2 linked regions of the Homo sapiens genome follow. The protein of the gene in region 1 interacts with the protein of each later gene in a pairwise test. Each region holds a gene or a part of one and is shown in the gene's direction. Other genes may lie near its edges.

Region 1 (3,500 bases):
TTTGGAGCCACATAATCTCTGTCACAACTCAACTCTGTCATTGTAGCATGAAAGCAGTCATAGACAGTATGTAAATGAACGAGTGTAGCTGTGTTCCAATGAAACTTTGTTAACAAAACAGGTCCATAGTTTGCCATTGCCTGGTCTAGGCCTTTTAGATGCACCTTTTTAAAAAAAACCTTTATGGCCAAGTATGTTTAGGAAACAATACCTACCCCACTGACCTAGAATTTTGTGTAACTCTGTTTAACCCGGATTTTCCTAAATGTATTTGACAACCGTGTGCTTTTTTTAAAATGGGACATATACCCTGCAGGATAAATTATGGGAAATCTTGTGGGTTGCAAGTTTGTCAATTTCCACAAATGTTTGGCAAATTTTAGGTCTTATTTGAAAATGTTTGGCAGGCTTGGTGCCATCTCCATTCCCCAAATGGGAAGAGGGCTTGACTTGAGGCTCCAGAGGGTCAGTCTCAGACTCCCCTTTCTGAAAAAATAGAGACTCCTATATGGAGAGTTTGATGGTTATGGTTTGATGGTTTGAAAAGCTCCAGTAAAGCCTACTGCTGGATTTGCCTTGTTAGTTTCTTTCTTTCTTTCTTTCTTTCTTTTTTTAAGGAAATCATTTCGTTCATGCTAGTATTTTACATCTTTGGGATGCAGCAAACAGTATGGAGCAAAGTAGAGGGATGTTACAAGCACATTTTAGGAACTCCAGAACAAATATTCATGAGGCCTTTCCTCAGTTTGGAAGCCTTGACTTGCAGCCTATTTTTAAGCAGTTTTCTGAACTGAGACCCTCCTCTAATGTTATACTGTATAAGGCTCTCACTGATAAATTAATGCAAAATAGGCTTTTCTGCCCCCCTTCCACATCTGAGCCACAAGAGGAGTTTCCCTATTGCAGGGAGGTTAATAACCAGTAGCTCCTCCTTTGCAAATACCAAGAAATTTAAATTTTAGTTTGTTATTCTCCAGTTTATAACAGTCTCTTAATATGGCCCTACTGACTTTTCACTCATGAGGGTAGAACTGGATCCCTTGATGGTAAATTATTGAGAGCCTCTATTTTTTTTCAATGTTCAATACAATGAAGACAGTTGTGCTGGAGAATAGCTATTAAGAGGAAAAGGTTAAAATGAGTAATATTTACGTTTTAAAATAACAATGGTCTTGAAATAACATTTACTTACTTGCACTTAAATACGGAGACTACTACTACCAACACACATGGAAGAGAATAATTGGTATCCTTCACTATTCCTTGAAGAGCCCTAGATTTAGTGCCCATTTACTAGCCAGAAGTCAAGGGTTCAAACCTCTATGAACTTGTTTGCTCCCCTGCAAAACTGAAGTTTTAAAAATGTGCCTGTCCAGTGTCTGAGAATTGTCATGGAACTTCGTGATAATGTCACTAAGTCATTTTATAATCTGTTAAATTTCTTAAAAGTCAAACACGGCCGGGTGCGGCGGCTCACGCCAGTAATCCCAGCACTTTGGGAGGCCGAGGCGGGTGGATCACAAGGTCAGGGGATCGAGAACATCCTGGCTAACACGGTGAAACCCCGTCTCTACTAAAAATACAAAAAATTAGCTGGGCGTGGTGGTGGGCACCTGTAGTCCCAGCTACTCGGGAGGCTGAGGCAGGAGAATGGTGTGAACCCAGGAGGTGGAGCTTGCAGTGAGCCGAGATCGCTCCACTGCACTCCAGCCTGGGTGACAGACCGAGATGCCGTCTCAAAAAAAAAAATAATAAAAGTTTAACACATGACTGCTACTTCTTTGGGGGCATTAAATATTCTTAATACCATCAGAAATAAAGATAGACTCAAAAATCATCTTCATACCTGGAAATCTTAGTCTAGGGATGTTTTCTTGGGAATATTTTTACCAATTAAAAAAAAATTTGAACTCTTGCATGGGCAATTTAAAGGTCTGCAAATTGTGAATAAAGGAATAATAGTTGCGAATAATAACCTGAGAATTATGCAGATACGTGTGTGTTTTTTAGTAGCTTTTTGCTATCTAAAATTATGCTGTTAGTGAATATGATTGTGGTTTGTTCAATTCATACTAAATAGTATATGCCTTTCAGAGTCTGTGGAGATCTTTAAAAGTGCCAACTAAGGGCTGGGTGTGGTTGTTCACACTTGTAATCCCAACACTTTGGGGGGCCAAGGCGAGAGGATCACCTGAGGCCAGGAGTTCAAGACCAGTCTGGGCAACATAACCAGACTCCATCTCTACAAAATAAAAAAAGTAGCCAGGCATGGTGGCACAGCATGTAGTCCAAACTACTCAGGAGGCTGAGGTGGGAGGATTGCTTGAGCCCAGGAGTTCAAGGTTACAGTGAGCCATGATCCTGCCACTGTACTCCAGCCTGGGGTGACAGAGTGAGTCCCTATTAAAAAATAATAATAATAAATAAATAAATAAATAAATAAATAATAAAAACAGTGCTAACTAAAATACAAGCTACCACACACACTGTATCAGCCGATTTTTAAACAGAGTGTGGATGCCACGGGGCAGCTTTGCAGAATGGAATAAAATGGAGTGTAAAAAAGAGCTTGGAGACATGTTATGTGCTAAGAGGAGTGACTCTCTCCATGTTTCCTACAACGTGAATAGAAATAAAGTGTGAACTTCCATCTGACTACTTATTGGTGGGTTGATGAAGAAGCAGATTCATTTCTCTTCTTAGATTTTTTTTCCAAGTGAAGAATGATCTTTTTGGCATACTTCTCATCAAGCTCACCCCAAAACAAGAAACTAACTTAGGTAAATAGATTTAGTTTGCTCAGTCTTTTCCATTTTTGCCACAGAATCTTCCAATACATACATACACACACACAGCCTTTCTTTCAAACAATTGTTATCCTCAAGTAGTTCTGTTCTTCTTCTTTTCAAAATTTATAAGCACCTCGTTATAAGTAAAATGAGAAATGCATTGTAATGAAATGCAATGTAATGTTCAAAATAATTAGCATGCAAAATGCTGAAGAAAAATAGCAATCTGACAAGAAAATGCTACCAATGTATTGAGTTTGCTAAAAAGAGAATGAAAAATATCCTTTATTCTTCAGATTTTCTTATTTCAAAATATGGCCCTGTAAAAGAAAATAGATATCATCATTTAGGCTTGATACAATTAAGGTTATTTAAGATGAACAACAAAAACAACAACAACAAAAATAATTGAAGTTATTTGACGGAAAGGGTAAAATGGCTGAGTCCTATGGCAGCCTTTCCCTAGAAAGACAGTCTTCCATCTCTTCGAAAAGAGAAAAGGGAAGCTACATCTCTGTTTCCGTTAAGCCAGACACAGTCATGGTTAGAATCTCTATGAATTGGTGGACAATGTCATCTCTTTGCTTCTAACCATAGCTAAAGATAGTCAGCTTCTCAAAGACAGTCCCAAGTTGTCAATAAAATCTGGAGCCCATGGCCCTCTCATGGGTTTCCATCAGGACATGTAGTAGGGTCACCACTCACAGTTGG
Region 2 (3,731 bases), on another chromosome or scaffold:
TGAGGTGAAGGAATTTAGAATAGTGAGGCTGGAGAGAAGAATTACTAGAGATATCTTTAAAAATCCAATGAAAGTAGCTCTGATTTTGGAAAATCAGAATATTCTCTGTAGTTTCATAAAGTGGAACTGGGATAAATGGGTAGAAGTTTGGGGGAAGTAGATTTCAGTTTTGAGAAGCAAAACATCTCTGTCTAAACAATGGGATGGGATGTTTCACGAAGAAATGTGATTCCTGCCATTTGTCAGCCAGGGATCTGACAAGGGTGTTTGTGAGGTCATTTCTGCATTGATTGGAGATAGCACTAGATGACCTCTTAAATTTCTGTTTTAATCTCAAACTTCTGTTAATCCACTGGGAGCCCTCTCAATGGATTTTAGGTGTGATGCTATTTATGCTCCCAGGTAAAGCTCTTGGTGTTTCTCATTATTGCTTTATTTAAAAAATTTGGACTAGTATTTATTACGTTTTCTGTTTCTTTCTTCCTTTTTAAAATGACATACATAGCATGTATATAAAGTGTATGAACCATGTTAGGGCAATATATGTTTGTTACACATATATGAATAATTATAAAATAAATATTCATGTAACCATCACCCAAGTTTGGAAATAGATTTTCAGCATCTTAAAAGCTCTGCATATGCAGATTATAACTCCCTGTTTTCTGAGGGAGAAGTTTTTGGTTTCATGGTGGTATTACAATGCAGACTGTCCATTATGGTAATTATCAGCTGGCTTCAGATTTGATTTTCCTTCTCTCTATAAATGCTGTCATTCCCTCCCATCTTAGTGTTTTTCCTGTGTGTCCTGCCACACAGATTGGTCCTATCGAAGCAGTGAGCTAAACGACCTAAACTTTATGGTTACTTAAGGTGTGATGGTAACACAGTATATCTGTTTATGGAAAATTAAAAGAATAAACAGATTACTTTTTTCATCTACATTTCAAAACAAGTGTTTGATCACCAAAAATATGCTGACATAAGGGATTACTATTGTCTTTCCATTGTTTTTAAAAGAAGACTAAGAACAGTTATAATTATGTAAAATGAGGGCCACAGACATGCCCCTTTTCTTACAAAAAAGAATTTTTTAAAAATCTCACAGTAAAAGAGGTGGTTTATATTAGGGTCTTTCTTTAGACTTGAATTGTAGAGTCATAGGTCAGACCACTTTCTAGGAGCTGTTCAGTGATAAAATTAATAACAGTGACTTTTGAGTCAAAATAGATTTTTAAAGTACTTGATTTTCTCTTTGATTTGGAAACATCTTTGTTTAGCTTAATTGAAATGATCTAAAATATTTGAAGGATTTTATACTTTACACAGAGGCATGTATTTGGATAATTAGCTTTTATTAAACCCAGGCTTGGCTTTTAAGGTACAATATACAAATTGTTTTTGAGATGTTTAGTTTTTTCCTCTCTCAAAAGTTTAATAGCTGGGCACATTAGCTCACGCCTGTAATCCCAGCACTTTGGGAGCCCGAGGCAGGCGGATCACAAGGGCAGGAGACTGAGACCATCCTGGCCAACATGGTGAAACCCCATCTCTACTAAAAATACAAAAGTTAGCTGGGTGTGGTGGCGGGCGCCTGTAGTCCCAGCTACTCGGGAGGCTGAGGCAGGAGAATCGCTTGAACCTGGGAGGCGGAGCTTGCAGTGAGCCGAGATCGCACCACTGCACTCCAGCCTGGGCAACAGAGTGAGACTGTCTCAAAAAAAAAAAAAAAAAAAAAAATTTACTGGGTATCTGTTTCACTTTGTAGGTCATCAGAAGATTGAGAGAAAGAGGAGAACCAATCAGACTATTTGGAGAGACTGATTATGATGCTTTTCAACGTTTAAGGAAAATAGAGATCCTCACACCAGAAGTTAACAAGGTAAGAGGACAGAACAAAGCTAGAAAAATACCACTGTACTGCATTCACTAGAATAGAGTTTGACTAATTGCATTATTGTAGGCAACAATGGAAAAGTAAAGTGAGCAGATTATTGCTGCTGAATGGAAGTTTTCATTAATTTTTTGAAAAGCTCATATCTTAAGTATAACATTTAATGCATTTTGACAAATACATACAAGCATATAACCATTGCCCTTATAAAGAAATAGAACATTTTCGTCACCAAAGAAATTTCCCTGAGAGCATCAGGAAGAATAGCGAATGGATGCTGGGCTCAATAGCTGGGTGATGGGATGATCTGTGAAGTAAACCACCACGACACACGTTTCCCTATGTAACAAACCTGTCATCCTGCAGCTGTATCCCTGAACTTAAAAGTTGAAAAAAAAGAGAAAAAGGAAATTTCCCCAGTACCCCTTCTCAGCCTATCCTCATATTTCTCCTCATCCCTTCCTGGGCAGCCACCATTTGAATTTTGTCATCATGGATTAATTTTGCTTGTTCTTGTATTTCATACAGATGGACTCATAGATTGTGTGTCTGGCTTCTTTCGCTCAGCATATCAGTTTTTAGGTTCATCCATGTTATTGCAGATACCACTGGTTTCCTTTTCATTTTCCAGTGATACTCAGTTGTATGAATATATCAAAATTTGTTTCCAGCTTTGGGCTATTAGGAATAAAACTGCTGGCTGGGCGTGGTGGCACAAGCCTGTAATCCCAGCACTTTGGGAGGCTGAGGCAGGTGGATCACAAGGTGAAGAGATCGAGACCATCCTGGCCAACATGGTGAAACCCCGTCTCTACTAAAAATACAAAAATTAGCTGGGCGTAGTGGCGTGTGCCTGTATTCCCAGCTACTTGGGAGGCTGAGGCAAGAGAATCACTTGAATCCGGGAGGTGGAGGTTGCAGTGAGCTGAGATTGTGCCACTGCACTCCAGCCTGGCGACAGAGTGAGACTCCTTCTCAAAAAAAAAAAAAAAAAAAAAAAAACAGGGATAAAACTGCTATGACCATTCTTATGCAGATCTTTTTTTGGAACTATGTTATTTTTCTTGGGTAAATAAATAGGTCTCTTGGGGAGATACCTAGAAGTAGAATTGCTGGATAATAAGAGTAGATGTATGCTTAACTTCATAAGAAATGCCAGTCATTTCCAAACCCCAGCATGTGGTATTGTTAGTCTTTTTAATTTTAACCATTCTCTTTTGTGTCTGGTAGTAGCTCTTTGCGGCTTTAATCACATTACCTGATGACTAAAGATGAGGAGCATCTTTTCATAAAGTTGTGTTCATTTGTGTAGTGTCTGTTAAAGTCTTTCTTTCCTTATTTATTTATTTTTTTGACACAGAGTCTCACTCCGTCACCTACGCTGGAATGCGGTGGCATAATCATGGCTCATGGCAGCTGCAACCTCCTGGGCTTAAGCAGTCCTCCCACCTCAGCCTCTCAAGTAGCTGGGATTACAGGCGCTTTTTGTTCATTTTAAAAATAAACTTGTCTTTTTGTAAATGGATTATAGGAATTCTTTGTATATTCTGGATAGAAGTTCTTTGTCAGATATACGAATATTTTTTGTGACTATTTTCTTGTAGTTTAGGGCTTACCTGTTCTCTTAATTGAATCTTTTGCTGAACAGAAGTTTGTGTGTGTGTACACACACGCTTTTTGAGACAGGGTCTCACTCTCACCCAGGCTGGAGTTCAGCATGATCATGGCTAACTGCAACCTCTAGCTCCTGGGCTTAAGCGATCTCCCACCTCAGCCTTCCAAGTAGCTGAGACCACAGGTGTGTGCCACCATGCCTGGCTGATTTTTTAATTTTTGT

The links. The genes of interacting proteins can lie anywhere in the genome.
Region 2: the proteins of CADPS (region 1) and PRPF18 interact in a two-hybrid assay, tested with the Homo sapiens proteins (one large-scale study listed by BioGRID).

Annotation. Positions count from the first base shown.
Region 1 is NC_000003.12:62,487,417-62,490,916, reverse strand, and holds part of CADPS (calcium-dependent secretion activator 1), read left to right. Parts: intron 1-3,500.
Region 2 is NC_000010.11:13,603,863-13,607,593, forward strand, and holds part of PRPF18 (pre-mRNA-splicing factor 18), read left to right. Parts: intron 1-1,768; coding exon 1,769-1,882; intron 1,883-3,731.